Homo sapiens: one gene and its partners. The protein of the gene in region 3 interacts with the protein of the main gene of each other region in a pairwise test. Each region holds a gene or a part of one and is shown on either strand. Other genes may lie near its edges. The genes, in order: MOS, CCDC141, HOMER3 and CDK18.

Region 1 (5,538 bases), on a different chromosome or scaffold from region 3:
GAATGTAAATGTACCTCAGTGTATGACTTTTATGAGTGAAGGTCATTACAAACAAGAAGTTTTACTGGGGGGAGTAGTAGGAAAGCATTACTTATTTTTTTAAAAGTTTTTACTGATTTGGTGTGGGAGCAACTACACCATTAATAGTTGGAATTTATGTGGTAGGTATGGGATATATATGGATTTATAGAAAATTTTGACATTTCTGCAGTGGAGTTCTATTTTGGACAAACTTTTATCAATAACAAATTTAAATAAATGAAATACTAGCAATGGAAAGCAAAGCACATGACTATATGAATAAGATTAGTTACTAACAGTACTGAGACAACAGGTACTAGACTTGTAGCTTTGCTAATGTGTCCTAGAAAAAGCACTGGAGACTAAAGGAGTTTTTAGTAACTTTATTTTCTAAAACTCCATCCTACAAATATGTTTTCTTCGACATCTCCACTTCCTTTAAAAACAAATAGAATCAGACAAAAACTTATCTTGACCAGGTTTTCAGTCAGCCGAGTTCAGCTTTCAAAGAGGTGAGATCCACCAAAAGCAGCCGCGCGCTCGGCCTCTGCGCCGCGCTGGGTCTCCAGCAGCGCTGGATGACGTCCCCAAGGCGCTGCCCGGGGAGCGAGTCCTCGAAGACGGCAGCGGAGAGGGACGGGCGCAGGTCGTAGGCCACCACCGCGTACAGTATGTGCTGCCGCTCCCCCGAATACGGCGCCTGCTTGGTAGTCATTTGCCAGAGAGTGATGGCAAAGGAATAAATGTCGGCTTTAGGCGTCACGCCCTCTCCTTTCAGGAGCTCCGGGGCGCGGTGGGTGTATGTGCCTCCTAGAGGGTAAGAGGGTGTCTGGAAGCACAGCAGATCTTCCAACTTCTCAGAGCAACCGAAGTCACTAATTTTACAGACATCCTGCTCACTGATCAAGATGTTCGCGGGCTTCAGGTCCAAGTGCACAATGCTTTGCGAGTGGAGGAAGAGCAGGCCGTTCACAACATCTAGTGAGTACTTGAGACACTTTCCCAAACTTAACTGTCCTCCAGTGCGGCAGTGAGGCTCCCCTGCGTCCCCCTCAGGGTGGCCGGCGGCGCCATAGATGACTTGGTGTAAAGTGACGTTGCCACCGAACTCCATGATGATGGTCCCTAGGCTATTGGACCCTGCGGGCGTGCGCGTGCTGGCAGCCACCACGCGCACGATGTTATCGTGGCGCAGCCTTGCTACGTTGAGCTCAGCCCAGAAACTCCGCCGAGATGCTAGTCGGTTCTTGGTGCACTTGTTCACTTGCTTTATGGCCACAGGAACACCGCGGTAAGTCGCCTTGTACACCGAGCCAAACCCTCCAGCTCCCAGCCTCTGCAGCAAGCACACCTGCTCCCAGTCAATGGAGCACCAGGCCAGCCGGCGCGGCAGCCGCGGGGCCCGAGGAAGAGTGGCCCCCAGAAGCAGCTTCGCAGGTAGCTCTGAGGGACTGCTGCAGGGCCGCGCGTCCACCGATGGGGAAAACTCGCTCCGGAGGTAGGGGCGTAGGGCCAGGGGCGAGGGCATCGCACTTTGCAGGGGGACACCAGGGCCGCTGGAGTGAATGAAGAGACTAGGGGAAACCGCGGGACTTTGGAAACATGACTGACTACTCCTTCGCTCCACCTCATCCCTTTTCTCCTTTTCCTTCACTTGTTCCAAATGAGCTACATCTGTGCTGTCACTCAGCAAGAGTTTTTATCAGATGGAGGGAGAAACCGGAATGAAGCACAGCTATCCCTTTCAGATGAAAGCATTTCCCTTCCACACTTGAAGTGAATTCTTATAAAAACAAGCTCATGCCAGACAAACAGCATGGAGCTGCCTCAGAACTCACCCCTCTTTTACATTATTTCTTAAATTATAATAAAATACGTTTTTTTCAAGTCTCATCCGCTGCACATTATCAGTCCTCAGACTAAAGAGACCACAAAGCACAATGAAATTGTTTCACACTTTGCAGGCTGTAATGATTGTTAGTGTCATTCTCCAGCTGCATTAAATCACTTCCAGCAGGTATTGGCTAAGAGTTAAAATGCAAACAGCAGACATTTGTTTAACCAATTACAGGGAAAAACTAGGTGCAACATTCATATGGATAAAAAATTGCAACCTTAATCAATCCAAATAGAATCACTGATACAGGTCATAACACACACCTAAATTCATCAGTGGAAAGGAGAATCCCCTGACACTCTATGCAGCTTACACAGCAAATTAGCAAGACATCTTAGCAACATACTGACTTCCTAACAATCCTTCCCTTCCAAGGCGATTTGGCCCAACCGGTCAGCTCACTTGCAAGAGAGATTCTAGACTTCGTAGCAAATGAGTTACCGAAGTTTTGAACCAGAGTTGGGGGAGACAAAAGAATAGAAATGATTCAGAGCTGTGATCAGGGCTTCAAATAATAACACATATGGGAGAATTGTAGAAGAGGAAAAATCTGAAGAAATAAAAATGGCACAAAATCACTGGTACCTACATATAATGTAGAAAACCAGAAGTTGGAATGAAATTCAGGGTATTGGCCATCAGACAATAAGATCTTTCTTTCTGATTTTTATAATGAAAATTAATTTTCTACCAAGTGCAGTGAGTTATGCCTATAATACCAGTGCTTTGGGAGGCTAAGGTGGAAGGGCCACTTGAGGCCAAGAATTTGAGACCTGCCTCTACAAAAAATAATAATAAAGTTAGCTGAGTGTGGTGGTGCACTCCTATAGTCCTAGCTACTTTGGAGGCTGGGGCGGGAGGAGACTTGAACTGAGGAGTTTGAGGCTATAGTGAGCTATGATCGTGCCACTGCACACCAGGCTGGATGATGGAGCAAGATCCTGACTCTAAGCAAAAAATTAATTTCATACCATATCTTTGGAAAAAGGACCAATAATATTACCATATTCATGAGAAAACACACACACACAAAAGTGTTAGGATCTATATTTTAAAAAATCAAATGGTAAAGTTCCCTTCTTCTAAAGCACTTATGTGTTAGGTTATGTGTAACCACATTTTAATGATAGCAGTTCTGTTTTTGAAGTATATTGACTTTGAGAAGGTAAATTAATAAACATGAACCATTTACAGAAACAATTTGAGGTCTGTGAAGCCCTGGAATAGGATTTCTATTCTATACAACCTGTGTGGCTTAGTATGTGATCTAGTGTGTGTATAATATTTAACCTGCTTGAGCCTCAATCTTTTTTTTTTTTTTGAGACAGAGTTTCGCTCTTGTTGCCCAGGCTGGAGTGCAATGGCACGATCTCCGCTCACTGCAACCTCCGCCACCTGGGTTCAAGCGATTCTCCCGCCTCAGCCTCCCGAGTAGCTGGGATTACAGGCGCATGCCACCATGCCCAGCTAACTTTTGTATTTTTAGTAGAGATGGGGTTTCACCATGTTGGCCAGGCTGGTCTCAAACTCCTGACCCCAGGTGATCCACCTGCCTCAGCCTCCCAAAGTGCTAGGATTACAGGCGTGAGCCACCATGCCTGGCCAACTCTATGGAATATTTTAGTAGAAAGATTGTTGTGTGCAATTGTGTCAAACCCCAAATATAAAAGGATGCCAATGAATAGAGAAAAAGTAATACAATTATATTCTATAATAAATCTACATTGCAAAATTTACTCAGTAACTGTCACCTAGTTAGGATTATAATTCAGGGCTCTGAAATGGTTATATAATAGGAGTGCTGTGAATATTAGCAGAATGAGAGTGCCTTAACCCCCTAGATATTACACATAATGCAAGATAATGTGACTTATTATATAATCTTTATTTTTAAGATAATTGCATACACAATTCATTTTCAAAGTTGGTTTTACTCTTTACCCAAAACATAAGGTATTAGTGAAAATGTGGCATTCTGTGTATTTATAAACCCCAAGTTCATTAGATCTATCATCTGCCAATCTGCCCAAGAATATTTAATTGAATATCCAATTTACAACAGCCTTTGTTTTCTTTTTTAAGGTATCTTAAAATATTTCTTTTACTCAGCAAATTGCACTTACCCTGAAAGCAGGATTTATCTCCCTATTGATTTTTTCTCCCCGTAACACAGTGCCAAACATATTTCTTATTATGTTCTTACTTTAATTTTGCTTTTTTCTTTTTGAGACAGCGTCTCACTATGTCACCCAGGCTGGAGTGCAGTGGTGTGATCTTGGTTCACTGCAACCTCTGCCTCCTTGGCTCAAGCGATCCTCCCACCTCAGCCTCCCAAGTAGCTGGGACCACAGGCACACACCACCACACCCAACTATTTTTGTATTTTTTTGTTGAGATGGGGTTTCACCATGTTTTCCAGGCTGGTCTTGAACTCCTGAGGTCAAGCGATCTGCCCGCCTCAGCTTCCCAAAATGCTAGGATTACAGGGCACTGTGCTTGGCCCTTAACTTTAATGTTTAATCCTGATTTGGTTACCAAATATGTGTGCACTATGTAATATTTTGGATCTCAAAAATGGGTAAAGCTTTAGCATGGTGGTAAAAGGCTATTAGGGGCCAGATGGCCTGGGTTTCTTACCATCCCAGTGCCTGTTTCCTTATCTGCAAAATGAGGAAAATATGCCCATCTCAGGATTGTTGTGAAGAGTAACAGAGTTTCAAATACTTAGATCAGGGCCTCAATGCTAATTATTATTTATAAAACTCATTTAAAAAACCATGTGTATGGGCTTATACGAATAAGAAACATATTTGTTAGGTAGTATTGGTTTAAAAGTATCCTATCAGGGCTGAAATAACTCGTTTTCATGTTAAACTAACATACAATTTGAGTATTTTTCTGCTCTTGAATTTTGCGGTTAAAGGTATAAAATCCTGCTGTATTAATGGTACAGCATGTAGTAAAAACGTGGGTGGAAGGTTAACACTAATCTGATCAAATGCAATATGCCTATGTCATCCCCCAAAGGCAAAGAGCAAAATGTGTTGATAACAAGGAATTCTCCTTGGAATTATATATGAAACAAAGGAGACAAGATAAACTGCACCTCCTGAGGAGCGAAATGCTCTCGTGTTCTTAGCGCACAGGCTTTACGTGTTTTGTTCTTTGATTGGCAGCATGACTATTAAGATACTTTCGTATCAAACACCATATTTATCACAAGAGTAACAACAGATACCGGAACGGATAGCTCCTTTTAATTTGACTTTAATCAGAGCCTGAGGATCGCGGATAGTGGGAGAACGTCCTCCTGACCAACGTGGTTGGCTTTCTGGGCACGCTGGGCCTGAGCCGCCCCAGCTCCCGGGGCGCGCACCGGGTTCCACGGGTACCGTGGACGGCGGGGCGCTGCGCCCTCCCTGCCTCCTGCACTTGCTGCGCTGGGGCCGAGGAGGTGGCTCTGCCTTTCTTGATTCCCCAGTCTCTGGAAGACAAGCCGCCCTCGCCGCCTCCTGGCTACCCGTGGGCTCGCCCTCGGGCTCGCCCGCTGGTGCTTTTGTGCGTTTCCTAGTGCACGGGCTTTGGGCGCGCTGGTGCCCGGAAGCACGTGGGCGAGGCCG
Region 2 (7,192 bases), on a different chromosome or scaffold from region 3:
CGGTGCCAAACCCATATACTCTCCTATCCTCAATAGCTCCCTCCACAATCCATTATTCTGTTCTGGATCTCAAACATGCTTTCTTTACTCTTCCTTTGCACCCTTCATCCCAGCCTCTCTTTGCTTTCACCTGGACTGACCCTGACACCCATCAAGCTCAGCAAATTACCTGGGCTGTACTGCCGCAAAGCTGCACAGACAGATCCCATTACTTCAGTCAAGCCCAAATTTCTTCCTCATCTGTTACCTATCTCAGCATAATTCTCATAAAAACACATGTGCTCTCCCTGCTGGTAGTGTCCGGCTAATCTCCCAAACCCCAATCCCTTCTACAAAACAACTCCTTTCCTTCCTAGGCATAGTTGGATACTTTCACCTTTGGATACCTGGTTTTGCCATCCTAACAAAACCGTTATATAAACTCACAAAAGGAAACCTAGCTGACCCCATAGATCCTAAATCCTTTCTCCACTCCTCTTTCCATTCCTTGAAGACAGCTTTAGAGACTGCCCCCACCCTAGCTCTTGCTGACTCATCCCAACCCTTTTCATTACACACAGCAGAAGTGCAGGGCTGTGCAGTTGGAATTCTTACACAAGGACTGGGATCGCATCCTGTAGGCTTTTTGTCCAAACAACTTGACCTTACTGTTTTAGGATGGCCATCATGTCTCCGTGCAGCAGCTGCTGCCACCCTAATACTTTTAGAGGTCCTTATAATCACAAACTATTCTCAACTCACTCTCTACAGCTCTCATAATTTCCAAAATCTATTTTCTTCCTCACACCTGATGCATATACTTTCTGCTCCCCGGCTCCTTCAGTTGTACTCACTCTTTGTTGAGTCTCCCACAATTACCATTGTTCATGGCCCGGACTTCAATCCAGCCTCCCACATTATTCCTGATACCACACCTGACCTTCATGACTGAATCTCTCTGATCCACCTGATGTTCACCCCATTTCCCCTCATTTCCTTCTTCCCTGTTTCTCACCCTGATCGCACTTGGTTTATTGATGGCAGTTCCACCAGGCCTAATCACCACACACCAGCAAAGGCAGGCTATCCTATATTACAAGCCACTAGTCCGCCTCTTAGAACCTCTCATTTCCTTTCCATCGTGGAAATCTATCCTCAAGGAAATAACATCTCAGTGTTCCATCTGCTATTCTACTACTTCTCGGATTATTCAGGCCCCTTCCCTTCCCTAAACATCAAGCTCAGAGATTTGCCCCCACCCAGGACTAGCAAATTAGCTTTACTTAACATGCCCCAAGTCAGGAAACTAAAATACCTCTTGGTCTATGTAGACACTTTCACTTGATAGGAAGATACCTTTCCCACAGGGTCTAAGAAGGCCACCACGGTCATTTCTTCCCTTCTGTCAGACACAATTACTCGGTTTGGCCTTCCCACCTCTACGCAGTCCGATAGTAGACTGGCCTTTATTAGTCAAATCAGCCAAGCAGTTTTTCAGGCTCTTGGTATTCAGTGAAACTTTTATATCCCTTACAGTCCTCAGTCTTCAGGAAAAGTAGAACGGACTAATGGTCTTTTAAAAACACACTTCACTAAGCTCAGCCACCAACTTAAAAAGGACTGGACAATACTTTTACCTCTTTCTTTTCTCAGAATTCAGGCCTGTCCTCGGAATGCTACAAGGTACAGCCCATTTGAGCTCCTGTGTGGACGCTCCTTTTTATTTAGCCCCAGTCTCATTCCAGACACCAGACCAACTTAGATTTTGCCCCCAAAATCTTGTCATCCCTACTATCTTCTGTCTAGTCATACTCCTATTCACCATTCTCAACTACTTATACATGCTCTGCTCTTGTTTACACTGCTGGTTTACATTGTTTCTCCAAGCCATCACAGCTGATATCTCCTGGTGCTATCCCCAAACTGCCACTCTTAACTCTTGAAGTAAATAAATAATCTTTGCCGGCAGGACTATGCTGAATCTCCTTAGGCACTCTCTAATCAGATGTCCTAGGTCCTCCCAATTCTTAGACCTTTAATACCTGTTTTTCTCCCTCTCTTATTCCATTTAGTTTCTCAATTCATATAAAACTGTATCCAGGCCATCACCAATAATTCTAAATGACAAATGTTTCTTCTAACAGTCCCATAATGTCACCCCTTACCACAAAGTCTTCCTTCAGCTTAATCCCTCCCACTCTAAGTTCTCATGACGCCCCTAATCCCGCTCGAAGCAGCCCTGAGAAACATCCCCCATCATCTCTCCATACCATCCCCCAAAATTTTCACCGTCCCAACACTTTACCACTATTTCGTTTTATTTTTCTTATTAATATAAGAAAGGAATGTCAGGCCTCTGAGCCCAAGCTAAGCCATCATATCCCCTGTGACCTGTGTACACATCCAGATGGCCAGTTCCTGCCTTAACTGATGACATTCCACCACAAAAGAAATGAAAATAGCCTGTTCCTGCCTTAACTGATGGCATTATCTTGTGAAATTCCTTCTCCTGGCTCATCCTGGCTCAAAAGCTCCCCTACTGAGCACCTTGTGACCCCCCCACTCCTGCCTGCCAGAGAACAACCCCCCTTTTTCCTTTACTTACCCAAATCCCATAAAACGGCCCCACCCCTATCTCCTTTCGCTGACTCTCTTCTCAGACTCAGCCCACCTGCACCCAGGTGAAATAAACAGCTTTATTGCTCACACAAAGCCTGTTTGGTGGTCTCTTCACACAGATGCAAGTGAAAGAAGGAGCCTGCCTGCAACCTTCCAGGTCAGTTACCTCTTTGCAAGCTCTCCAGCCCTGCCATAAAATGAAACCATTTGCAATAGTTGCTACATCATAGCTTGCTCGGCATCTGCTTTCCTGAGCTCGCTCCAATTGTTCCCTTCATGGGGTCAGGTGAAGTTCGTGTTGCATAGGGACTAGGATCTAGGTATGGTTTCCATCTCACTGGGGCAGCAGGCAGATGCTGAGCGCAGAGGACATGGGTGGTGGCTACACAGCTGCAGAGCAGCCATGACATGCTCTTGGAAACAAAAATAATTGAACACTGAAGTATGTGTAAAAGTACTTTTCCCCTTTGAATCAAGAATATGATCATGAACCTTAGCAAAACAAAGCAATGGAGCTGACTCAGTCTTCTAAACATTGGCCCTGAACCTGAACCTACTATTAAATTGGGCTAAAAGGTTTACAGAGCAAGTGGATTCATTAAAACTGTTTTTTGCTATATTCTCTGTTGTGGCTTTGTCCCAGAGATTTCCAATGCTTCCAGCAGCTTTGGAGTTAGTAACTCTGATATGTTTGCATCTGACTTCTGACCTAAACTTTAGTGTTATTTTCAGCTGTTCTTTGACAGGGAATCCAACAGCTGCTGTTTAATACCACAGACAACTTGTGACACAGGCTGAGTTTCTAGCAATAGGATTAATCTACCAATGTGGGGCACTGATTTGAAGCTGGCTATAATTTTCCTGAACAGGAGGTGGGGGTAGGGAATAAAAAGCCTGAAGCACAGTACTTTCCTTTTTGTTTTTGTTTTTAATTGCAGCAAAATATATGTCTTAATAACTTTTAACCACACAGAAAACATTTTCTTGCTGCAATTAAAAGGTAACAGCAAAGTATTTTGCTTTCTCATGGTATTAATAACTGAACTTGAAAACCTTGTCCAATGGAGCAGAATAGTCACAAAGAAAATCTGAAATGATAGGCACCTATTTATAAATGCTGGTTGAAATATTTTTTAAAAATTCCTAAGAAATCTGAGGCTCTGAGAAAATGTGGCTATTCCATCTAAACTTCATTTAGCAAAGAACAGTAAGTTTTAGAAAAGCAGATTAATCTAAAAATGTGTTTTAAGCAATTTGTGACTTAACCCCAAGACAAATACCAAAACTTTTTTAAAGTACACTTTGGTAGTTCTCTTTGCATCAGAGAGATTTCAAAAATCTTGAAAAGATTGATAACCAGGTCAAAGACTTACTTGTTTCAAAGTCCATGGTTACAATGGCATAGTTTCGGTGGCAAAACTAATTTGGGTTGTCAGGATGTAATTTTTTTTTCCATTTGTTATCAAACATCAGCTGATAAGGAAAGAGCTTGAAGCTGTCCTCCACATTTAAGATAACAGCAAAAATAACAGGCACTTAGTGTCACCATACTAGGGGCGTGGCAATTCTCTCTCGTTCGCTCCTTTCTCTCTCACGATAAACTCAATGGGGTTGTCTATTTTTAACCTCCTGTTCTTTCCTTTTGGCAGAGTAATCAGTGTGAGCTGAGCTCTTTCCCTGAATGAATCCAAGTAACCCTGGCCTTCTGAAATGACCAGCAGACACACAACTGTCCAGAGGCTGCCCAAAGTATAAACTCTGGTTCTAAAGTACCATGTCCAGCCAAGGAAGTCCTAGTGTTGCGCTTTCTACGACGACAGTCAGTTCAGTTGCTGTGCAGGCTGGGGACTCCAAAATCGTTATAGCTGTCATAAAGGTAAGCTAACAACTTCCTTTTTTCTGTGCGGCTGTGGGCTTCTAGCTGTGTGTTGAAAACCCTAAAGAACATTCCATGCAATCGGCAGGACACAGCATAGAGAAGACAACGCAGCAAGCACTCTTACTGCTTTCTAAAATGGGCTACTAAGAGAAACCTCTACAAGTTTCAGCAGTTACCAGAGATTCTCTTTCCTTTCAGTCAGCCAGAAAGCATCTATAGCAGCTTGATTTAAAAAAAAAAAAAAAAAGAAAAGAAAGAAAAATAAAGAAAAGAAAACCTCTAGCATATACTGTCAATTTGGTCTTTAAAAGCAAGGCATTGGTAACTGGAAGTTCATGATTGCCTGACTAAAGAGTCCAATGGACCTGTGGAATGCTTGTGATTTTTGAGAGTGGATGTGATGGAGGTGGGAGGAGGCAGGTCCCGACAGACAGGGGGAGGGCACTGCTTTAAGCACGATGGAACTCAGAAAACACCAAGTAAAGGGCTCCGACATGTGCCCTTTGCCACACTGGTTTTGACATGGTAAAGAAACTACTAAATCCTTGTCCAGTAACGAAGACCATGCAAGGAAAGGTACAAAAGCTTTGTGTCAAATTTGCTCTTAACAGCAGGAAGTAGAAGCCACTTAGGGTTTACAATTACTGCATGTTTTATGACAACCCATTTGCCCATTTGCAAAGATGACCACACATCTTTAGGCTGAAGAAGAACTCCATGATTTTATTCTCCATGGAAATGCCCTGTAAAAAAAAGCTTTCAAGCACTAGGCTTGGGCTTTAGATGATATTCCACCTAAATAATTCAGTGTTTAATGAAGGGAAAGCTGGCAAACAAGCTGATGGTCACAAACCAGTTACTTTCAGGTCCCCACCAGGTTTAATTGAATGACTTTTCTGGCCTTTTGTTAGAGCATGGACAGCAAGCCATGTTTACTTTAACTTAATTGCTGTGAATTTTATGGTAATGTGAAAATTCATACCAGGAAAAGAGCACTTGATACTGAGCAAAACAGTTCACTATAGAAGGACAGAATGGAAAGTATTCCTGCCGAGGTGGATTTTCTGGTGTTGTGAGACTTCTCTCCCACAGGAACCAGGCCTCTGCTGACTTCCTCACCCTCCCATCTTTTCAGAGTCCCAGAGAGGAGATGAAAAGAAGCCTGATGCAGAAGTAGGGCAAACAGATCATTTGCACGGGATTAATGATACTTTGAGTTAACTGCAGATTTCAGCAATGAGGGAAAAGAGGCAAACTCACTATTTTTCAAAAAGTTAACTTTCCATTTCCTCAAATATGAACATTCTTGGAGCAGGATGAGGAATAATATTAGAGGATAAATTACAGAAGAATCAGAGGTAGATTGAACACAAAAAAATTACACTGGAAATTACACTGGAAAATTACACTGGAAACTCTTATTTTAACTGAATTGTGTTTCTAAGAATGTTCCCCCACTACCCTCTCCTCAGCCCTCTTACCTTACTGCCATCTCCATACAAAATACACCCCAAGCAATTCAGAGTATAAAGTCCACCTTAATGGAATGGAAGTGCCTGTGTGTGATTTATAGTGACTGTCCAAACTGTCTCAGGGGACTGAATATATTCTAAAATAGAAATACATTTTTCTAATTTCTCTTTAGTAATTCAGGTATCTACATGCGTATGCGTGTTAGTGGTTCATTTTGCTTAATGAGTTGTTGCTTCTTAGAAAAGCAATTCCTCAGGAAATGCAATGACAAATTATATCTTAGAGCAGTGTAAATCTTGTGTGGAAAGCAAGTTGACTGTGCTCAAATGGCAGTTGTCACAGGCATCTAATTTTGTTAATATTTTCCTACACGCTTTAATGAATATTCAACAACTAAGGTTGGAAAACAGCATATTTTACCTTTGAAATAAGATAAAAATCAATTTCTTCATCTGATATTTATTATTTTCAGCTAAACCAGCAAGGCCAATGTAAAGACACTAATCAGCCTAAATTGCATTTACAAGAACTTTCCCCATGGTGAAATTTGCATCCTACCTGCCCAAGTGGAATTTCACTATTTTTATTGAGTTCAGTTTTGTGAGTGAGAGAGGATACAGTTGTGTAAATTATTCTGTAACTTTATAATATTCAATAATACGTAATCCATTGTATGTTTTCCTCACTTGGGAATTTTTAACTCAAATCCAATATGCCAAGAGAGAATAATTTATGCTAAGAATAAAAAATAAAAGACAGGGCATGGATTTATATTAGATCTGTTGTGTTTCAATTTAAGTAAACCCCATCTCTATGGAAAGAATGGAAAAAAATAGAAAATAGAAAAAAGTGTTTACAGTATAACTGGAAATTTAAACGATATATTAAAAATGAGAAGGGTGAAGAGGAAGGAACAAGAGGAACTAAAAGTGCATTTTATTTAATTTTTATTTTTAGTGTGGCAAATGGGTACAACTTCAACTGGCTGAATCACAGCCCAATCTTCTAGAAATTGGCAGCAGTCAAGATGAAACCAAAAAACTTCTTCATGATCATGAACTTCTTTTGGCCAAGCTCAAGGTAAGATACTAAGATGTGAAGCAGAAACAAAATTAAAGAGACATAAAAAACTATTTCTTATACTTCTTGATTCCTCTGCTGTTACTGGCCTAGGGCCACTTTAATATGGTACCAGGTAGATAATGGAAAAATCAGTAGTTATTTATGAACAAACAGCATCAG
Region 3 (7,029 bases):
CTGGGCATCAGGCCTTCCACAGGACTGGGCCTCCCAATACTTTATCATCTTAGGTAGATATTGTCCTGAGTGTCTGTTGAGGTGACTGTCACCCACCGTCACCCCACCTCCTTGTGCCCACACACACCTGCACCTTCTGCTGAGTCTCCTCACGCTCGGCAGCCTCCAGGGCCTCGCGGGGCCCCCCAGTCTGACTCTTCAGGGTCTGAATCTCCTAGAGGAGAAGAGTTCCCAGGGTCTGTTGCGGGGGTCCTGGCTTTCCCACAGGAGGTGAGGGAAGGCGAGGCCCAGGAACCACACTTGGCACTCACCTGGTCCTTGGTTTGCACCAGAGCTTCCAGCTGTTCCAGCGACTGGCCCTGGCCCAGCCCCTCCTTCTCACCGGTGGGGGTCACCTCTGAAGCTGCCTGAGCCTCCAGCTCAGCCACCTGTAGGGCAGGAATAGCAGCCCCTGACGCCCCCGCCTGCACTCTCCCTTGCTCGCCCAACCTCTAGGGAATCTGCCTCCTGTCTGGCCACGCCCAGGACCGAGCACCCATCTCCCTTGGTTGGTGCCACCACCCCCCTCTGCACAGCTTGGACTTTAGTGTCTGATCACCCTCTGAGGCTGGCATTGTCTCAAACCCATTTTACAGAGCAAGAAACTGAGGCTGGGTCAGTGACCTGCTGAGGTCACACAGCTAGTCCATGAACCCAGGGCAGATGGGAACTGCCGAGGCGCGGTCTCCACAGTTGCCCGGGCCAGGTGGGGGTCTCTCGGAGGGAGGGGTGCCCTCACCCGCTGCCGCAGCCGCTCGGCCTCTGCACGCTGAGCCTCCAGCTGCTGCCTCCACTGGGCTGCGGCGGCGTTGGCCTCTCGCAGGGCGCCTGCCAGCTTGTTGTTGCTGTCCTGCAGTGCGAAAAACTCGGCCTCCCACTGTACCTCGCCCACGGAGCTGCAGAGACACGAGGGTCGGCAGTGGGTGACACGGGGCTGGGGGGCGGAGTCGGGCGATGCTGGGCTAGGGGGCGGGGCCAGGGGTGGGATAGCTCTGGGCTTAGGTCAGGGCGAAGGCTGGCGAGGGTGCGGAGTCGTGCGCGAAGTTGGACTAGGGGGCGGGGCAGGGGTGGAGTGGCACTGGGCTGGGGGCGGAGTCAGCGGCAATGCTCGGTTAGGGGGCGGGGCCAGGGTGGGTGGCGCTGGGCTGAGGCGGAGTCACGGGCGATGCTGGGCTAGGGGGCGGGGCCAGAGGAGGGGTGGCTTTGGGCTAGGGCACGGAGTCAGGGCCACGCAGGGCTGGGGATGTGGCGACACTGATTGCTGAGCTTGGGGATGGGGCAGTCCCGCAGAAGCGGGGTCTTGTCGAGGACCGAGTCAAAGAAGGGGGCACGTGGAGTCCGCCCAGTGACACTGTGGGAATGTTGAGGGAGGGATGGGAGGTTGGGGAGAGTCAGCCGATGGGGGCGTGGTCAGGGTGGTTATCCTAAGACCAGAGAGGCATCGACGGGGCGAGGTTAGCAGCGAGAAGAGACAGGGATGGGGTCAAAACAGAGGGGCGTGGCCAACGCAGGGTAGGGGCGGGGTCGGCTCTGGATGGGGCAGCATTCAGATCCTCATCCCCTTCCCCAGGTCTTGAGTCCACAGTTAGATCCCGCCGTCCTGGCACTCCCTTGGCTTCCAAGAACCGCCTCCTCGTCCCCCACCCCTACCCCCGCCCCTGCCACGCCCCCAAGTCCCGCCCCTCACCCCTCAGACAACATCTTCTTTAGCCGCTCGCGCTCTGTGGGGCCGGGGGCATCAGCGCTCTGGCTGCGGAACAGTTTTTCCTCGCCGGGGCCGTTGGCACTGACGAGAGGGCTCGGGGGCACCTAGGCACGGGGAAAAGAATAGGTCACGACCCCACATCAGCTGGGATCAAGGCTGATGTGACTGGGGTCGTCACATCGGGGGTGCAATTGACCTATGCACCCTAAGCAGGTCCTTCACAGCACAGGATCCAAGTGTGTCCCTCCCCACCTCACCCACCCTCCATGGCTCCCTGTGGCCCCTAAGCTGGGAGTTCCATGCCCACGCCCTCGACCTTGCCTTCCTGGGCTTTCACCACCCCCAGGAGCAAGTCTGATGCAGGTTAGTCTAAACCAAGATACTTAGAACCTGTAAGGTAGGGGAGGGGTACAATCGGACACCTCCCTGCTGTTCCCTTCCCTGAGGCCGAACTTCAACATCACGTTTAGGATTTCAGCAGGAAGCCCTGCCCAGGCCGAATTCGTGTTTCGTGAGCAACCCCACTGCCTGGACCACTGGCTCTGAGGGTAGACAAGCTGGCGGGTGCCCTGCGAGAGGCCAGCGCCACCGCAGCCCAGTGCAGGCAGCAGCTGGAGGCTCATGCTTTTTTTCATCTCTCCAACCCCTGTGCACAGCCCTCGGCCTGGTACACAGCAGGTGCTCAATAAATAATGCTGAATAAATTAATGTGGGAAAACACGCAGGGACAGTTCGTTGTTCTGCCTCACACTTAGCCATTTCTTTCTTTCTTTTTTTTTTTGAGACAGAGTCACACTCTGTCACCCAGGCTGGAGTGCAGTGGCACGATCTCGGCTCACTGCAACCTCCATCTCCTGGGTTCAAGCGATTCTCCTGCCTCAGCCTCCCGAGTAGCTGGGACTACAGGCGCATGCCACCACGCCTGGCTAATTTTTGTATTTTTTAGCAGAGGTGGAGTATCACCATGTTGGCCAGGCTGGTCTCGAACTCTTGGCCTCAAGTCATCCTCCCTCCTCAGCCTCCCAAATTGCTGGGATTACAGGCGTGAGCCACCGCACCCGGCCACACTTAGCCATTTCAATTTCTAGTCTTCCATCCTGCCATCTGAGCTGGTTTTGCTACTGGGACCTACTGGGTGTACCCCACCGGCCCCAGGCAAGGTCCAGACCCTCTATGACACACTCCACACCACTCCTCTGTGGTCCCTGCTGTGGGTCTAACCTTAGGTCATCTGGAAGCATTGGGTCTTGACGACCAGCAGAGTGCCCCGGTCTCCCAATATCAAGGTCCCCCAATATCAGTTGAGCGCCTGGCTGACTCACAGGTGCCCAGGCAGGCATAGGGGAGTAGGGAGTGCTGACCTGGTGGGAGGCGAGCCCCAGGGCTGGACTGGTGAGCTCCCCGCCATCCTGAGATTTCTCCCTGGCCAGCCTGGCTGCTTCCTTCACTTCCTGGAACTTCTCGGCAAACTAAGGGAGTGGGGAGGAAAAGACAGTAAAACCCCAGCCCATCCTCCCAAACAGGTCACCATCACTCAGTGACAGCCCCGCCACTTTCGAACCGTACCCATCCCCTTATCACACACCTTGGAAGAAGGAGAGAAACTTTGAAAAATGATGTACCATGGTGGGTGGGCAGGTGGCATCAGATCACAGAGGTGGCATTTAAATACATTGGGCCACATTGAGAAAGGGAAAGGAATTCCCATGTCCTCTTTTTAGGAAAGGGTCTCACTTTGTCACCCAGGCTGCAGTACAGTGGCATGATCTCGGCTCACTGCAGCCTTGACCTCCCTGGCTCAAGTGACCCTTCCACCTTACCCCTCCACCAAGGAGCTGGGACTACAGGTGTGTGCCATCATGCCCGGCTAATTTTTTCTAGAGACGGGGTCTAGCCATGTTCCCCAGAATGGCCCTTTTCCTGTTTTTTGTTTTTTTTTTTTTTGAGATGGAGTCTTGCTCTGTTGCCCAGGCTGGAGTGCAGTGACATGATCTTGGCTCACGGCAGCCTCTGCTTCAGCCTCATGAGTAGCTGGGATTACAGGCATGCACCAGCATGCCTGGCTAATTTTCATATTTTTAGTAGAGATGTGGTTTTACCATGTTGGCCAGGCTGATCTTAAATTCCCGGCTTGAAGTGATCCGCCTGCCTCAGCCTCCCAAAGTGGTGGGATTACAGGCACAGCACCCAGCCTTTTTTTTTTTTTTTTTTGGGGGGGGACAGAATCTCGCTTTGTCACCCTGGCTGGAGTGCAGTGGCACCATCTCAGCTCACTGCAACCTCTGCCTCCCAGGTTCAAGCGAGTCTTCTGCCTCAACCTCCCGAGTAGCTAGGACTACAGGCCCGTGCCACCACGCCCAGCTAATTTTTGTATTTAGTACAGATGGGGTTTCACCATATTGGCCATGCTGGTCTCGAACTCCTGACCCCGTGATCCACCCACCTCGGCCTCCCAAAGTGTGAGAATGACAGGTATGAGCCAACATGTGGGGTCCCTTTTAATCTTTATCAGGGCTATTTCAACAAAGAGAGCCTCAGGTGGGTGCTAATCTGTCTTTAACACCTGTTATTATTCCTTTATAACAAAGAGATTAGGTCTCAGGCTCTGAGAGACATCAGAAGTCAATGAGAAAGTAATCATCTCATTCTTGTTTTTGTTGTATTAAATGTTTACATGTTTACATTTACCACCTATTTATGACAAAGCAATACCAGTTTTCCAGTTAGGATAGGATATGTTTCCCCCCACCACCCCGGTTTTAAAATAAATTTCCTTAGTTTAAAAATAATTTTTTAGGCCGGGTGCGGTGGCTCACACCTGTAATCCCAGCACTTTGGGAGACCAAGGCGGGCGGATCATTTGAGGTCAGGAGTTCGAAACCAGCCTGGCCAACATGGTGAAACCCCATCTCTACTAAAAACACAAAAATTAGCCAGGCATGGTGGTGGGCGCCTGTAATCCTAGTACTTGGGAGGCTGAGGCAGGAGAATTGCTTGAGCCCAGGAGGTGGAGGTTGCAGTGAGCTGAGATTGTGCCATTGCACTCCAGCCTGGGTGACAGAGCAAAACTCTGTCTCAAAATAAATAGATAAGGCCATGTGTGGTGGCTCACGCTTGTAATCCCAGCACTTTGGGAGGCCGAGGCAGGTGGATCATGAGGTCAGGAGTTCAAGAGCAGGCTGACCAACATGGTGAAACCCCATGTCTACTAAAAATACAAAATCAGCCAGGCATGGTGGCACATGACTGTAATCCCAGCTACTTGGGAGGCTGAGGAAGGAGAATTGCTTGAACCGGGGAGGCGGAAGTTGCGGTGAGCCGAGATCGCACCATTGCACTCCAGCCTGGGGGACAAGAGTGAAACTCTGTCTCAAAAAAATAAATAAATAAATAAATAAATAAATGATTTTTTAGGCTGGGTGCAGTGGCTCACACCTGTAATCCCATCACTTTGGGAGCCTGAGGCAGGCGGATTACCTGAAGTCAGGAGTTTGAGACCAGCCTGGCCAACATAGTGAAACCCTGTCTCTGCTAAGAATACAAAAATTAAAAAAACAAAAATTTTGTAAAAATACAAAAATTAGCCAGGTGTGGTGTGTCTGTAATCCCAACTACTTGGGAAGCTGAGGCAGGAGAATTGCTTGAACCTGGAGAGAAGAGGTTGCAGTGAGCCGAGATCGGGCCACTGCACTCCAGCCTGGCAACAGAGCTAGACTCTGTCTCCAAAAAAAAAAAAAAGACCTAAATTAGAAAGGTAAATTGTTGGGGCCGGGCGCGGTGGCTCACACCTGTAATCCCAGCACTTTGGGAGGCCAAGGTGGGTGGATCACGAGGTCAGGAGATCGAGACCATCCTGGCTAACACGGTGAAACCCCCGTCTCTATTAAAAATACAAAAAAAATTAGCAGGGCGTGGTGGCAGGCGCCTGTAGTCCCAGCTACTAGGGAGGCTGAGGCAGAAGAATCAGAAGAATGGTGTGAACCTGGGAGGCAGAGCTTGCAGTGAGCCAAGATCGCGCCACTGCACTCCAGCCTGTGCGACAGAGCGAGACTCCGTCTCAAAAAAAAAAAAAAAAGTAAATTGTCTGGGTGCAGTGGCTCAAGCCTGTAATCCCAGCACTTTAGGAGGCCAAAGTGAGAGGCTCGCTTGAGGCCAGGAGTCAAGAACAGCCTGGACAACATAGTGAGATCCTATCTCTAAAAAAAATAAGATTAAAGATATTAGCTAGGCATGGTGGCATACGCCTATAGTCTCAGCTAGTCAGGAGGCTGAGGTGGGAGGATCCCTTGTGCCCAGGAGTTTGAGGCTGCAGTGAGCCATGATTGCACTGCTTCACTCCAGCCTGGACAGCAGAGCAAGATCTTGTTAAAAAAAAAAAAAAAAAGAAGGGAGGGAGGGAGGGAAAAAAAAAGAAGAAAGGTAAATTCTAAACCTTCTAGAAGAAAACAAAGAAAGCCTGGTGTGGTAGCTCATGCCTGTAATCCCAGCACTTTGGGAGGCCGAGGCAGGTGGATCATCTGAGGTCAGGAGTTCAAGACCACCCTGGCCAACAAAATCCCATCTCCACTAAAAATACAAAAATTAGCTGGGCGAGGTGGTGGGCACCTGTAATCCCAGCTACTCCAGAGGCTGAGGCAGGAGAATCGCTTGAACCCGGGAGGTGGAGGTTGCAGTGAGCCGAGATCGTGCCACTGCACTCCAGCCTGGGGGACAGAGCAAGGCATTATCTCCAAAAAAAAAAAAAAAAAAAGAAGAAGATCTTCGTGAAAGCACTCATCATCAACAAAACCACGGATAAAGATAATAATGGAAGTATAGAGACGGCACAGGGTGCAGGGAGGTGAGGATGAAGGTATTGCTGGGGCATGTGGGAAAGTGCCCAGCCCAGCCCAGCCACCCATTTGATGTCCCAAAGAGGAGCAGGGTGTGTCCAAAATTAGAGCTACAGGCAGTAGAACTAGGACTCAAGAGCAGGTACAGTGGCTCATGCCTGTAATTGCAGCACTTTGGGAGGCCGAGGCAGGCAGATCATTTCAGGTCAGGAGTTCGAGACCAGCCTGGCCAACATGGTGAAACCCTGTCTCTAATAAAATACAAAAAATTAGCTGGGCGTGGTGGCGGACTCCTGTAGTCCCAGCTACTCAGGAGGCTGAGGCAGGAGAATCGCTTGAACCCGGGAGGCGGAGGTTGCGTGAGCCAAGATCACTGCAGCCTATCTCAAAAAAAAAACAGAAAAATGAACTAGGAATCAAACCGGGGAAGCTTAAAGGGGCTTCAGTCTCAAC
Region 4 (7,264 bases), on a different chromosome or scaffold from region 3:
TTAGTCTCTGCTACATGCCAGGCACTGTGCATTATTTTTTTTTTTTTTTTTTTTTTTTTTTTTTGAGACGGAGTCTCGCTCTGTCGCCCAGGCTGGAGTACAGCGGTGCAATCTCGGCTCACTACAACCTCCGCCTCCCGGGTTCACGCCATTCTCCTGCCTCAGCCTCCCGAGTAGCTACAGGCACCTGCCACCACGCCTGACTAATTTTGTGCTTTTTTTTTTTTTTCAGTAGAGATGGGGTTTCACCATGTTAGCCAGGATGGTCTCGATCTCCTGACCTCGTGATCCGTCCACCTCGGCCTCCCAAAGTGCTGGGATTACAGGCGTGAGCCACCGCACCCAGCCTAAATCTTATAACAGCCCTCTATTATGATCCTCATTTTACAGATGAGGGAACGGATGCTGGGAGAAATTCACGAGTGTGCTAGTGAGGGGAAGGTCACATAGCTACTATATGCTGGAGCTGGATTCCACCAAGGCCAGAAGTTTGCCCTCCCCTTTAGTTCTCAAGCTCAGTTAGAGAAGAACAGAAGGAATCAGAGGACAGGTAGATGGAGATGCTGGACAAAAGTCCCAACAGGGTGATCCCAGAAAGTAGAGGCTTGGTTAGGGTAGGAACCGGGAAGAGTCAAGCCGGGCTCTGCCCTACAGTGTAGGACGCATTCCCGAGTGCGGGACGGCCCAAGTAGGCAGAGGACAGAGTCCGAGTCTGTAGAGGAAGCAAATGCACCCTGAAAGGCAGCTCCATGTCCTCTAGACCTGAGCGGGGGTTTGCAGGGCTGGCAACCTGATCCCACGAGATCTCAGACCAAGAACCTATTTGCTCCTCAGATCTGGTGCCCTCTCTCCTGTGCCCCATGGAGAAGCCTGGCTCTGCCTAGTGCAGGACAGACAGATGGGAGCCTCAATATTTGGAGCATCACCCCCATTCTTTCTTCTCCTGAGGACTGACGCAGACCAGAGAACTCCAGAGTGGGCCGGAACCTCCCCACAATGGGGCAGGGGTTAACAGCAGGGGCTTGGGGTCAGACGGAAGTGGGCTGGATCCCACCTCTGTGTGACCTTGGAAAAGTTGGTCTCTCAGAGACTCAGTTTCTTCACCTGTAAAATGGGGATGATAATAATACCTACTTCATAAAGTTGTGACGCACTGCTTGGCGCACAGTAGATATTCAACAAATGGTGGCCACTAAGGCTTGTCTACTCTGCCTCTGGCACCCCCGATAAGTTTGGGAAGAACTTCTTCTGGCACGCGTGGAGAGCTTCTTCCATTCTCCTGGCAGGGTATGGGGAGAGTCCTGGGGACCCAGTGGGGAGAGTCCTGGGAACCCAATGGTCAGGTACACCCCAGATTAAGGGTGGGGGAGGGGTCAGCCCCACAGCCTCCTCAGCTGCACAAGAGGTGGCTGGGAAAGGGTAACCCGAGATAGCAGCTTTGCTGTGGCAAGGTGACCCTCTCTCTGGAACGCCTTCAGGATGCAAACCCGGACCTGGAGCCAGTGTCGCCCTGTACTCCACCGACCCTCAGCACCCTCAGCACCGTTTTCCCAGGCCCCTCCCAAGGCCAGGCTAAAGGCAGGGGATCTCTGAGGACGTGCCAGTCCACCAGGCGCTCCAGGCATCCTCTCAGGCCCGTGTCCAGGAATGTGCTGCATGCCCATGCCCGGGTGGGGAATGCCACGCGAACATGCCGAAGCTCACTGGGTGCTGACACAGGAGGGGCAAGCCGGTGGTGTTAGTGAGTCACAGGGCCCAGGCTACAGCTGGGGAACTGCCGAGGGCTGGGCTAGGGGTGGGGAAGAAGGGGAGACAGTAGCAGATAGCGCGGAAGAGGTTCCAGGGCCTCTCACTCCCACAGTGTCAATCCTCCCACCCCGACTGCCGGGAGGTGCCCAGAGAGAATGAAGAGAGGCAGGGCTGGTGCCTAGGAGGGTGCTGACCCTGCAGCACAGAAAACCCCTCACTGTTTCTGCAGCCCAACTCCCACCCAGCACAAGGTCTGCAGACACCTTCAGGGAATCCCCGCCCCCCACAGGGCGAAAACAGAGGCCTCCAGTCCAGACCCGATTTTGGATTTCAGATTCCTGATGGTGTCCCTCAACTACAGCAGAATCCTCAAGGCACATCTCCTTAGCCCAACAGGTCACCGCCCACTCCCCCCGGCCCCACCCAGCCTCCTTTCCCTCTGCTGCATTAACCCTCTGTCGCCTGTTGATGAGGGGTGGAGGGGGGCACTGCCCCTTTGGTCTTCCGGGGTGGAAAGAGAGAAGCAGCAGCATTCCCCAGACCCCTGCCTCCCCCAGAACTGGGACCTGCAGGGCTTCACGTGTCCTTCCACGTTCTTCCCAGGGCTCCGGCCTCCCACCCCCTGCCTGCCGCTCTGGAAAGTTCACCAGAGCCCAGGAAGCCCTTCAAGGCAGCGATGTGGCCCCACACTCTCGGGTCCTTTGGTCCCTGGAGACTCCTGACCCTTGCCCTTCCCAGAATGAAGGGAGCTTAGAAAGCGCCTGGTTCCGGACTGGGTGGAAAACTTTGCTTTGTAGGGTTCAGACGGGAGCCCAGGGGCCAAAGTGATCCCAGATGGAGACTCCCTAAGGGGGCGCGGGGTCTGAGATTGCAAAATAACCCTCCCTCTCAAGCACCTGGAACTTACGAGTGGCCTTTCGAGGGCACCCCCCACCCCTCAACACACAACACAGTATCACACAGATCACGCCTCGTGATCTCTGCTCTCCCCTCGCCGCTCCGGTATTTCCCTCCAACCTCTCGCCTCAGGGCAAAAGCAAAACTGCGCCTTTAAGAGCCGTTCCGCTTACCTTTGCTCCTTATACCCGGCGCCGCGGTGCCCGCTCCTCCGACCTCCCCCTTCCTCCCAGGCGCACCGCCCGCGGGACTCACAGCGCGTGTCCTGGGGGCCGCGGTGCGCCCGCTCCCTCCCGGGCACGGGGCAGCTTCCCCTGCTCCGGAAAGGTGAGCAGTTCCCCAGAGAAGCTGCAACCTGAGCTGGCCGAGGAGGAGGTAGAAGGGGAGGGGAAGGGAGGGAGTGGAGGAAGGTGGGGAAGAGGAGGGAGGAGGAGGAGGAGGAGGAGGAGGAAGGAAAATGCCCGGCCCCCGCCAGAGTTTTTCACATGTACAAGTTGACTCCGCCCCCGGCCCTCCCGCCCTGCCCACAGCCGCTACCAATCCCCAGGGCTCCCTCTGCCCGGGTGCCCACCCCTTTCTCCCACTCTGGGAACCAGGGTCCAAGTGCCTCTTCCTGTTTCGTTTCTAAAACCGGCCCTGAGAGCCTTGGCTAGGGGATGAGGCCTTCTGGACTGGATCACCCCAGGACACCAAGGCGCCAGGGGTACACTGAGAGTGCCTGCCTGTCTCTAAAAGCGGTGCTCCTACCTCTCCTAGGTACCTCCCTGTACCTGGCGCCCTAGGAACGAATGTGCATGGACAGATTTTGGTGGTCATTTTCTTGACAATAGTAGCCCTCGGGCTCCCCTTCTACCCTATCCAGTGGGACTTGTCACTTACCTTTCCGGACAAAGTTCCCACCTCTCCAGGACCTGAATGAAGCCCTTGTTACCAGCCATCATTCACATTTCCCTCCCCGAAGGATAATTCAACTTGTCCTTTTGGAATTAAACTCCACAGGATATTTGAGAATCATCCAAGAAGGGTTACAGAATGGCTAGTTCAGCTAGTGGCACTCTCATTTTACAGAAGGGGAAACTGAGGCCCAGCAAAGCAATTGAACTGGCCTAAAGTGCCACAAGAGTTCATGGCGAGCCATGATTAGAACTCAGGCCAATGGCCATTGCACCCACATCATCTGACTTCAAGGATCAAAAAAAAAAACAAAACAAAAATCTGGGGATGGGGGTGAAGGGCACAGTGCCCCACCGCCAGGCCCCTCTCATCTCTGCTTCCTCCTGAGGGCTGTGAGGAGAGGAGGTGTGCCTTGGCTCTATGGCACCTCATCAAGGCAGTCTGTGTCCCCTGCCCTACCAGAGGGCTTGGCTGCTGCAGTCTGGGGTCTCCCACAGGGAAAGTCTCCTTAGGAGGGGGTGCTCCACAGTGTACATGTGCTTCTACCTGAACCCTTTCCCTGGGGACTGTGAGTTGTTGAGAATAGAACAGTTTCCTTCTGGAAGACATGGGCCTGAGGTCCCACTGTCAGCTGGAGACAGGAGAATGAAGGAAGACACTGGGCCCATGCATGAAAGTGACCTGTGGGTAGTTGACATCTCACAGAGGGCCTCCCAACTCTTTTTTTTTTTTTTACCTCGCTTTCTCTGCCAAGGCATGCAGATTTCCTGGGCACAGCACTTCCTAAAAATGAAACTGCCAAGTGTTGTCGGGGTGCATGGATCCAGAGCCTTTAGGTGTGCAGCAACCTCCTGGCTCTGTAGTCCAGTGGATGGTGAGAAGCCTGGGGAGCAGGAGGCCATAAAGAGGTTTGGAAGGGGCAGGGAGGGAAAGGGAGAAGGACTATGGCCAAGGAACTGTTTACTGGCGGATTAGAGAGAGTGGGGCCAAAGGGTAGAATTTCAAGGAACTAGGGGGGTGAAGTCAAGAGGTCTCCACAAACACTTTCTCAACATCTCTTATGTGCCAAATGATAGCCAGGGCTCTGGGCACATAAGATGAGTATAACCCAGTCCCTGCCTTCAAGAAGCTCTTGGTGTAATGCGGCAGGGAAGCAAACAGTTAGGATGCTATAGGAGGAGGCTTAGTGTTACGGATGCCTGGGAGGAGCTATTCTGCTTGAGGTGAGGGTTACAGGATGAGGGGACAAGAGAGAGGAGGAAGGATTTTCCCTGTTTTTTCCAGGAGGGGTAATCCCTTGTGCAGAGTGCAGGGGTGACAGAATATGGACCCACAGTTCCATGAGGTCAGAACTTAAAGTCTGGGGTGGAGGTGACACTGTAGAGGCAGGCAGGTGCTGGGTCCTGAAGACCCCCAACGTGGAGGCTGATCCTAGTGGAAAATGAGAATGAGCTTAGACCACACAGCGGCAGCAGGGAGGAGAGGAGGGAACTGATTTGAGAGATAGGTAGGAGACAGGGTCATGGAGCCTTGTGACTATTGGATTCTAGAAGATAAGGGAGCCAACAGTGTCAAGATTAGAAGCACTGATGTGATAGGCTGAGTGGGACCTTGGAGCTTCTTAAGTGAGCCTTGATTCCCAGCACCTCCTTAGATTGCTCTGTGAACTTGGGCAAGCGAACTAAGCTTTCTGAGGCCATCTGTAGAACAAAGTTGCTAAAATCAATCTTGTATGGTTGTTGTACATATTAGGGTAATGTATGCTAAGGGCCTGGCATAGGACTTGGCTCATAATGGAGAACTCAATAGATAGTAAATATAATTACCATCATTCATGCATTCAACAAACATTTATTGAACACCTGCTATGTGACAAGGACTATACTGGATCCTTGCATTGGATAGATGATTTTAAGTCTCAGTTCCTATTCTCATGTAGTTCACTGTTCAGGTGGAGAAAGATATGCAGAGGCAGTCACCTACCAAGGCAATATGGGCTGAGCAGAGGAAGAAGCCCTTAACTCTGCCCAAGAGAATTTGGGACAGCTCCACAGAGGAGAGATGACAGCTGAAATGATGTAGGGCCAGCCACCTGCTCAGAGCCTGTCACATCACCCCCTGCCCCACCACCACCACATGGGATTGCTTCAGAATCTCTGAAAGCTTCAGTTTTGAAGCATCGTCTTGGTTCTCAGGGTTGAAGGAAGAGGATGAACTGCAGGTGGGCATCTATATGGAGCCCAGAGAATGGCACAACAAGCTTTGGCCACCCCAGGAAAGGGCAAGTGCAGATGGGAGGTGGGAGGGGGGAACCAGATAAGAGTGACCCTGGGCAGGGCTTACTAGCTGGATAGGGAGTCCATGATACCCAGTCATACACATCAGTGGCCTGTGTATGTGTGCTCTTTGGGTCAGCCTAATTTTTCTGCTTCTCATCTGTACCATTTCAAAAATTCCCTCTGAACCCCTTGGTGTCCCCTGCCCTCCGATGCCAACTTTCTTTCTGTGCATCTTGCAATAAGCCAAACACAGTAGAAGCAGCACTACCTAGGACTTCCACTAAGGAGGGGCTCCTTCCCTGCTGCCTTACCAAGCAATACTTTGAGCTTTAAAGCCATGTAAACTGTGTGACCTTGGGCAGTTACTGACATATCTGACTTCCTTTCCTGTCCATAACATGGAGATGGTAATAGTCCCTCTCTCATGGGGCTGTTGTGAGGTTTCAATAGGATGTAAACTTGGCACCCAATCAATGCTGTTTCTCTTTTCTGCAGCCCATTAACTCCCTCCTTGCAGAGGGACAGACAACAGACCCTCAGCTGGGGGTTTCCCTGGCACCCCAGCCCCTGGGGCCCATCCCCTGTGGGTCCTGCAGCCCCCTTCCCCTCTGCTAGTCTAATGGATCTGTGGCATCCCCGGGAGGCCCTGGTCACCCTAGCCATGTAGCAGTGTAATGCTGGCAGGCCTGAGCAGCATGACAATGGTGGCCCCAGCAGCAGCTCAGCCCACTGCCCACTCTGCTCCTGTCTCCTCCTCGCTGCCAGTGACATGCCACTGCTCTGCAGATAGGACAGGCGTCCCTGGGTGCCTGAGGGCTGAGCAGGGAAGCTGGAAACAGCTCTCCCTCGCAGACTGTGTGGGCAGTGCATTTGAATAGCATCTGAAAAACCAAAGTTCAAGCCCGCCCCACTTTCCCCTGGGAGGCACAGCATCCAGACAGGGAGAGTTCAGCCAACAGAGAATCTCTTTTCTGCACATTGTCAGGGGCTCCCTTCCCCTCTGGCCCTATATCCGAGCAGGCACAGTCTCTGAAAGCACTGCAGGGACATTTGGGAGGCCGGAGACTTGACTCCGCCCCTAAGGTGCAGAAATCACTTTGTTTCTCTGGGCCTCTGTTTTCCTCTATAGCAAAAGGGGAATAGTGTGAATACCTATCTTTCAGGATGGGAGAACTAAATGCAAAGGTGACTGTGAAAGTGCTTTGCACACTGTAGAACGACCTGCATGTGTATGAGATCATTAGTGTTTGTCCAGAGGGCCCTTTTTAGGGTTCCAGGAATCAAGTAAAGACATGAGAAATGAGAAGCTAAGTGAGAACAGAGAAACTCACCTCAACAGCCTGCCCTTGGCAGGCAGGAGGGAGATTGGCAGCAGAGACCTGAAGATGGACTGACCCATTATGGCCTAGCTAGTTAGAGGTCTGTGAGTCATTGGGACAGCAGGA

Evidence for each region.
Region 1: the proteins of HOMER3 (region 3) and MOS interact in binary tests that used the Homo sapiens proteins (3 or more experiments, as listed by UniProt).
Region 2: the proteins of HOMER3 (region 3) and CCDC141 interact in binary tests that used the Homo sapiens proteins (3 or more experiments, as listed by UniProt).
Region 4: the proteins of HOMER3 (region 3) and CDK18 interact in binary tests that used the Homo sapiens proteins (3 or more experiments, as listed by UniProt).

The regions. Positions count from the first base shown.
Region 1 is NC_000008.11:56,112,434-56,117,971, forward strand, and holds MOS (proto-oncogene serine/threonine-protein kinase mos), read right to left. Parts: upstream 1,550-5,538; coding exon 509-1,549; downstream 1-508.
Region 2 is NC_000002.12:179,047,122-179,054,313, reverse strand, and holds the start of CCDC141 (coiled-coil domain-containing protein 141), read left to right. Parts: upstream 1-4,176; 5' UTR 4,177-4,372; coding exon 4,373-4,474; intron 4,475-6,907; coding exon 6,908-7,030; intron 7,031-7,192. UniProt on the Homo sapiens protein: Plays a critical role in cortical radial and GnRH neurons migration during brain development. Regulates cortical radial migration by negatively controlling the activity of histone deacetylase 6 (HDAC6) and promotes centrosome maturation.
Region 3 is NC_000019.10:18,931,198-18,938,226, forward strand, and holds part of HOMER3 (homer protein homolog 3), read right to left. Parts: intron 3,214-7,029; coding exon 3,106-3,213; intron 1,849-3,105; coding exon 1,727-1,848; intron 936-1,726; coding exon 779-935; intron 429-778; coding exon 312-428; intron 215-311; coding exon 128-214; intron 1-127. UniProt on the Homo sapiens protein: Postsynaptic density scaffolding protein. Binds and cross-links cytoplasmic regions of GRM1, GRM5, ITPR1, DNM3, RYR1, RYR2, SHANK1 and SHANK3.
Region 4 is NC_000001.11:205,500,434-205,507,697, reverse strand, and holds the start of CDK18 (cyclin-dependent kinase 18), read right to left. Parts: upstream 3,030-7,264; 5' UTR 2,902-3,029; exon of another isoform or gene 2,820-2,901; intron 1-2,819. UniProt on the Homo sapiens protein: May play a role in signal transduction cascades in terminally differentiated cells.